Homo sapiens: one gene and its partner. The protein of the gene in region 1 interacts with the protein of each later gene in a pairwise test. Each region holds a gene or a part of one and is shown in the gene's direction. Other genes may lie near its edges.

The links.
Region 2: the proteins of LBP (region 1) and BST1 interact in a two-hybrid assay, tested with the Homo sapiens proteins (one large-scale study listed by BioGRID and IntAct).

What each region holds. Positions count from the first base shown.
Region 1 is NC_000020.11:38,359,739-38,363,561, forward strand, and holds part of LBP (lipopolysaccharide-binding protein precursor), read left to right. Parts: intron 1-965; coding exon 966-1,029; intron 1,030-3,823. UniProt on the Homo sapiens protein: Plays a role in the innate immune response. Binds to the lipid A moiety of bacterial lipopolysaccharides (LPS), a glycolipid present in the outer membrane of all Gram-negative bacteria.
Region 2 is NC_000004.12:15,705,778-15,709,600, forward strand, and holds part of BST1 (ADP-ribosyl cyclase/cyclic ADP-ribose hydrolase 2 precursor), read left to right. Parts: intron 1-1,733; coding exon 1,734-1,869; intron 1,870-3,823. UniProt on the Homo sapiens protein: Catalyzes both the synthesis of cyclic ADP-beta-D-ribose (cADPR) from NAD(+), and its hydrolysis to ADP-D-ribose (ADPR).

The sequences.
Region 1 (3,823 bases):
TATCCCAAGGCTGCATCATAAATAATTCGGGTGATTACAGTGGCAAGTACAGCCAACAAGTTTGGAAATGCACATTTCCTTCTCTTGAGAAGCAGGCCGCACAACTGGTGGCAATTGTGTGTGAGTAGCCTACAGACCCCAGCATTCAGTCTTCCAGGAGTACCAGCAGGAATGGGGAATACTGATCAGTCCAGCCAATCTGTTCAGGATGACCATTAAGAACTATCTACAGGCCGAATGTGGTGGCTCACGTCTGTAATCCCAGCACTTTGGGAGGCCAAGGCAGGTGGATCGCCTGAGGTCAGGAGTTCAAGACCAGCCTGGCCAACATGGTGAAACCCCGTCTCCACTAAATATATAACAATTAGCTGGGCGTGGTGGCACATGCCTGTGATCCCAGCTACTTGGGAGGCTGAGGCAGGAGAATCGCTTGAACCCAGGAGGCAGAGGTTCACCCAGGAGGGTGAGCCGAGATCGCAACACTGCACTCCAGCCTGGCCAACAGGGCGAGACTCCATCTCAAAAAAAAAAAAAAACAAAAAAACTATCTACATTAACTGTATGTTTATTTGTGTTTATTTCTAGTTAGTGTCTAGTTCTGCTATTAAACTCTAAATTCTGAGAGGCCAGGACCTCCCAAAGGAAAACTTTGTAATGGTGGAGTTTCAGGCACTGTCTCCAGCCAGTGCCCCCTCCTCAGGCTGTGTCAGTGACTCCCTAGCTCAGGTGTCCAGCCCTGGGACAGACTGAAAAGTCCAACTGGACCCTAGTGGAGTCCACATGGGGGCCCACATAGTTTTATTGTTTGTATTTCCTTGGTACCTGGCTCATGACAAGCACTTATAAATATTTGTAAATCAGTGATCACTGAGCACATGTGTGGAATAATGTGACTGCAGTGATCAGCACGGGGCCAGACCAGAGCTGGGGAACTCACTCAGTCATTCTCTTCCCATGTTTTTCAGATTTGCGAAATGATCCAGAAATCAGTGTCCTCCGATCTACAGCCTTATCTCCAAACTCTGCCAGGTAGGACACCCCATCCATCCCGGGACACTTTTATTTCTGTTAATTTCTATAAGAGCATATATATATCTTATAAAATAGTAAATGGGGCAAAAATATAGAAAGTAAAAATTAAGGGCCAGGCGCAGCGGCTCACACCTGTAATCTCAGCAGTCTGGGAGGCCGAGGCGGGTGGATCACCTGAGGTCAGGAGTTCGAGACCAGCCTGGCCAACATGGTGAAACCCTGTCTCTACTAAAAATACAGAATTAGCCGGGCGTGGTGGCGCATGCCTGTAATCCCAGCTACTCGGGAGGCTGAGGCAGGAGAATTGATTGAACCCAGAAGGTGGAGGTTGCAGTGAGCCAAGATCACGCCATTGCACCCTACCCTGGGCAACAAAGACCGAAACTCTGTCTCAACAGAAAAAAAAAAAAAAAGAAAGTAAAAATTAAAAGTTCATTTTTCTCCCCCACTTTTCTTCCAAGAAGTAACTTCTGTTTTGGGTGTATCTTTTCAGATATTTTCTTTGTATGTACAAATATAAATACATGTAAGCATATAAATAGACATTCATGTATGTATTATTTTGTTCATGAATCTATGTGTATATGTATTATTTTAAATATATATGTTCATATACATATAGTATAGGCATTGTTCCAGATTTCTTTTTTTTGAGATGGGGTCTCACTCTGTGTCCCAGGCTGGAGTGCAGTGGTGTGATCTCGGCTCACTGCAGCCTCAAACTCTTGAGCTCAAGTGATCCTCCTGCCTCAGCCACCTGAGTAGCTGGGACTACAGGTGCATGCCACCACACCCGGCTACTTTTTGTATTTTTTGTAGAGACAGGGTTTCTTTATGTTGCCCAGGCTGGTCTCGAACTCCTGGGCTCAAGTGATCTGCCCACCTCAGCCTCCCAAAGTACTGGGATGACAGGCACGAGCCACTGTGCCAGCTTGATTTCATTTTTAAAAACTTTTTATTGAAGTATATTTATAAAGAAAAGTGCTCAAATCATAAGTGTGCTGTTAAAGAGTTTTTACATGCATGTAACCAGCTCCCAACCGAGAAACAGAACACGGCTGGTTTTTCAGAGCCCCTGGTGTCCCCCTCGGTCACTGCCCAGCCCTCCAGGGTCACCACCATCCCAACTTCTACCAGCAAAGATTAGTTTTGCACTTTGCACATGAATGGAATCAGACAATATTTTGAGTCTCTTTTCAAAAGCCAGAAGGCTTTCTTTGTTCAACTTTAAAATATGAGGTCAGGGCTGGGCGCGGTGGCTCACGCCTTTATTTTTTGTTTTCTTTTTTTTTTTTTTTTTTTTTGTGAGACGGAGTCTCGCTCTGTTGCCCAGGCTGGAGTGCAGTGGCGCAATCTCGGCTCACTGCAAGCTTCGCCTCGCGATTTCACGCCATTCTCCTGTCTCAGCCTCGCGAGTAGCTGGGACTACAGGCGCCCGCCACCACGTCTGGCTAATTTTTTTTGTATTTTTAGTAGAGACGGGGTTTCACCATGTTAGCCAGGATGGTCTTGATCTCCTGACCTCGTGATCCGCCCGCTCGGCCTCCCAAAGTGCTGGGATTGCAGGCGTGAGAGCTCACGCCTGTAATCCCAACATTTAGGGAGGCCGAGGCGGGTGGATTACCTGAGGTCAGGAGTTCGAGACCAGCCCAGTCAACATGGTGAAACCCCGTCTCTACTAAAAATACAAAAATTAGCCAGGTGCCGTGGTGGATGCCTGTAATCCCAGCTACTCGGGAGGCTGAGGCAGGAGAATCACTTGAACCTGGGAGGCGGAGTTTGCGGTGAGTTGAGATTGTGCTACTGCACTCCAGCCTGGGCAACAGAACAAGACTCTGTCTCAACAAAGAAAAAAAATAATAAATAATAAATAAACAAAATAAAATATGAGGTCAGGTCAGGCTTGGTGGTGCACACCTATAATCCCAGCACTTTGGGAGGCCAAGGAGGGAGTATCACTTCAGTTCAGGAGTTCAAGGCCAGCCCGGGCAACATAGCGAAACCCCATCTCTACAATAAATACAAAAATTAGCCAGGCATAGTGGTGTGTGCCTGTAGTCCCAGCTACTTGGGAGGCCAAGGTGGGAGGATCGCTTGAGCCCAGGAGGTCAAGGCAGCGGTGGGCTGAAATTGTGCCACTGCACTCCAGCCTGGGCCACAGAGTGAGATCCTATCTCAAAAAGAAATGAAATAAAATAAAACATGAGGTCCATGCATATTGTTGCATGCACCTGTAGTGTAGCTGGTTTATTCTCCTTGCTGCATAGTATATCACCATGTAGATGTTTCCCCATTTATTTGTTCATTCTACTGTTGAAGGCCATCTGGGGGGTGTTCAGTTTTAGGCCATTATCCGTAGTGCTGCTATAAATGTCCTAGTACCTATGGTCGCATGTCTTTGGGTATATATCTGGGAGTGAAATTGCAAGCTCGTCATATCATGTGATATGCCCAGATTCAGCATTATAAGATCCTGCCAAACAGTTTTCCAAAGTGGTTGTAACAGACCTTATTTGTTAACAGCCGTGTAGTGTTCCATCACATGGATGTGTCTTCATTTATTTAATAAGTCCCCCACTGATGGACATTTAGGTGCTTTGCTGTCCCTTGCTATTGCCAACAGGGCTGCAAGGAGCCATCTACAAGTGGAGTCTCTGGATCCAGGGTGCACACATTAAGCTCGGAGGGGGAGACCCTGGCAAATTATCTGAGATGTTCTCTGATGCCTTAGCTCCTAAGCCCCTATGCGGTTATTTGCTGACATCACCTTTACCAGAGGTCCAGGTCGGCA
Region 2 (3,823 bases), on another chromosome or scaffold:
GTGCTGAGCTCTCTGTGGGAAGCTAGCTTTGTTTCTGTATTAGTCCGTTGTCACATTGCTATAAAGAAATGCCTGAGACTGGGTAATTTACAAAGAAAAGAGGTTTAACTGGTTCACAGTTCCACAGGCTGTACAGGAAGAATGGCAACATCTACTTCTGGGAGGCCTCTGGGAGCTTTTACTTCAGCAGAAGGCAAAGTGGGAGCAGGTGTCTTACATGGCACGAGCAGGACCAAGGGCAGAGGGAGGTGCCACAGGCTTGTAAACAACTGGATCTTCTGAGAACTCCCTCAGGAGAACAGCAGCAAAGGGGGAAATCCACCCCCATAATCCAATCACCTCACACCAGGCCCCACCTCCAACATAGGGGATTACAATTTTACAAGAGACACAAATCCAAATCATATCAGTTTCCAATAGTGATTGTAGATCTCCCGCTGGTTGTGGGCAGAAGAAAATTTCCTAAGTTAGCAAGTTAGTGTGAGAATCAACATGAGGACATCAGGACATGGCCATACCTGTCACACTGGGCCTCCACATCTGGCCAGTTCTAAATAACCTTCATCCTAACTGGCCCAATGGCCTGAACCTTGAGTAATTCAGAAAACTCTCAATCTCAGTATCCTCCCGGGAGACCAGTCTCTCCATTTAACGGGTCTTAAGATTATATTTATTTAGTACCAGTTTATTTAAGAAAACCACATATCTATATTCTGTATACACTCTCAGGTCTAATAAAATGAAAATAATGAGAAAATTTCCATAAAACCCTTGCTTAAAACAATACCTCAAGTTTAAGGAATGCTAGACACCATTTTTGTTTCTGTGACATAAACATTGTTAACCTGATTTTTTCCATTGTGTGTTATTTGTAAAGGCAAGTAAATGGAACTGTGAGGTTCAAAGATAGAATAGACTGAAAACATGATTTTTGAGTATATGCTGTCTTTTGAACCTTGCTGCCCTCCTGTCACTAAAAGTGGGGAAGCTGACTTTTTAACCTTCTGTTTCATAGATTCGGTGCTAGTTGATGAACTCAGTAAATACTTCCGGGGCTATTTGTTTGCCAGTCATTGGTGCTAAGGGTTAAGGATGTAACAGTGAAAAACAGCCCTCACCCTTGGGGACCTTCTAGTCTAAATATAAACTGATTGGACTACTGAGGGTCAGATGAAATAGTGACTGGGGGATTTGTGTTATTGTTATATAAAAACACTATGGTGGAAACTATAAAGTATAATATAAAAGCAATGTGTTTTTGAGGCACTTGACACTTTAGGAAGTGCTTTTTGTGACTGCTTATTATCCTGGCCACAGCTCTGGAAGAAGAGAAAGGGCTCATGCTCTGCATTTTCCAGAAGTAGAAACTGAGAAACAGGGAGATTGCATGCCTTGCTCAAGATTACATATCTAATACATGACAGAGCCAGGATTCCAGCCCAGTTCCCTTGATCATTTTTAATGTAGGGGATCTTACCACATGCACGTATATTTAGTACTAGTGAGAAAATATTCCATTAACATTTGCATGATACCCTGGGAATAAAGGGAGGAGAGATGCTAGCAGTCTTTGAATGAATAAATAAAGACAACGAAAAAGAACGTTCAGTTGTTGTGCAGCAGGTCAGAGTTGAATGAGAACTGGATTGCCCAACTTGCCTTGATGATATTGTGCCTGAGGAGTCGGTTTTGATTCTGTTTTGTATTTTGATGTTTTGTTTGTCTTTCCTTAGTCCCTGTTCTGGGAAAATAGCCACCTCCTTGTTAACAGCTTTGCAGACAACACCCGTCGTTTTATGCCCCTGAGCGATGTTCTGTATGGCAGGGTTGCAGATTTCTTGAGCTGGTGTCGACAGAAAAATGACTCTGGTAAGACTCCTGCACAAATCACAGGAGACTTAAGAACTCCTATTTACTATGCATTACCATTTGTGCTAAATGCTTTCATATGCATTTATTTCACTTGATCCTCTCCAAGTCCTCTGAGATAAGTGGCAAGAATAGTTAATAATAACAATACTAGAGAATACTTAACTTTGCAGGTGCCAGTCTAAGCACTCTCTCTCTCTCTCTCTCTCTATATATATATATATATATACACATATATATACACATATATATACATATCTATACATATCTATATCTATATATACACACATACTCATTTGATGCCCACAACAACCTCATGGGATCCTATCATAATCCCCATTTTGATAAATGAGGAAACTGAGGCACAGCAAGATTAAGAAATCTGCTCAGGGGGCATAGCTAGTAAGCAGCAGACAGTCTGACTCCAGAGCCCATTTTCTCAACTTTGCACAACTCTGCCTTACTATCCTCATTTGTCCAGAGGGGGAAGCTGAGGCTTAGGGAGGTTAAATGACTGGAAGTGGTAAGGCTGGGTCTCAGTCCTGTCCTGATGGATTCTGAAGCCTGTGCTCTGTAACACCACTCCAGGCCGCCGGCAGATATTTCGAGATCCAAGTCACAAGGAAAGTTAGAGTCACAAGAGCTGGCCTGAATGTTCTGCAAACACTCCTCATTCATCCAACTGTGGTGCTAGGAGCTGGAGACACAGCAGTCCCCATCTTCAGGGAGGTTATAGCCTCATGGGGGATATCAGCTCGAGTGATATGGGCTATAATGCAGGAAAAATGGTGTTCGAGGAGTAGCAGAGTGAGACACCAGCCTCCACCAGATCATCAGGGAAGCTTCAGAAGGGAGGCTAGCAAGGAAAGGAGGTTAGGGAGTGTTTCCATTATGAAGACTGGAGATCCTTCCTGGGTATCAGAGTTACTTCAAAAGTTAACCTAATATCAGGCCGGGCATGGTAGCTCACGCTTGTAATCCTAGCACTTTGGGAGGCCGAGGTGGGTGGATCATTTGAGGTCACGAGTTCGAGATTAGCCTGGCCAACATGAAGAAATCCAAACTCTACTAAAAATACAAAAAAATTAGCCAGGTATGGTGGTGCATGCCTGTAATCACAGCTACTCGGGAGGCTGAGGCAGGAGAATCCCTCGAACCCTGGAGAAGGAGGTTGCACTGAGGCGAGATCATACCACTGCACTCCAGCCTGGATGACAGAGTGAGACTCGGCACACACAAAAAAAAGAGTTAACCTAATATCAGTTCTGTTTATTTCTCCTCCATTCATTTGTCCATCAAACTAAAATTTATAGTGTCTACTATGTGCCAGACCCTCATCTTCTAGACAGTAGGAAAACAGCAGAGAATAAAACATGAAATTAATACCCCATGCTTACATTATAGGAGGGCAGATAAGACAATAAACAGGCAAGTGAAATATACAGACTGCCTTAAGATTATAAGGGCTATGGAGAAAATTAAAACAGGTAATAAGGACAAAAAAGATTGAGGGTGGAGGGCCAGGGAAAGGAAAGTGTTGCATTTTTACCTAGATGCCGAGGGAAAACCTCACTGATAAGCTGATATTTGAACAAGGACCTGAAGGAGATGAGAAAGAGCATTTTCTGATGGGAGAACAGCAATTGCAAAGGCCCTGAGGTGGGAGCGTGTGTGACATATTTAACAGCAAAGAGGACAGTGGGCAAAGAGGAAAGTGTGAGCTATGAGGCTAGAGGAATAAAGGAGGGCCAGGTGGCACAGGATGTTGTGAGGCCTCTGCTTTTCACTGTGAGTGAGATGGGCAGCATTGCAGGTTCCACGTCAAATGGACACAGCCATTCTTTCAATGGAGAACTTCCAGGAAGCTTTTGTTTGATGATGCTGCAGAGGGTGGGGAGAAGGAGGGGAGGAATGTGATGAAAAACACATAAAGAAAGGGAGAGCCTTCCAGAAA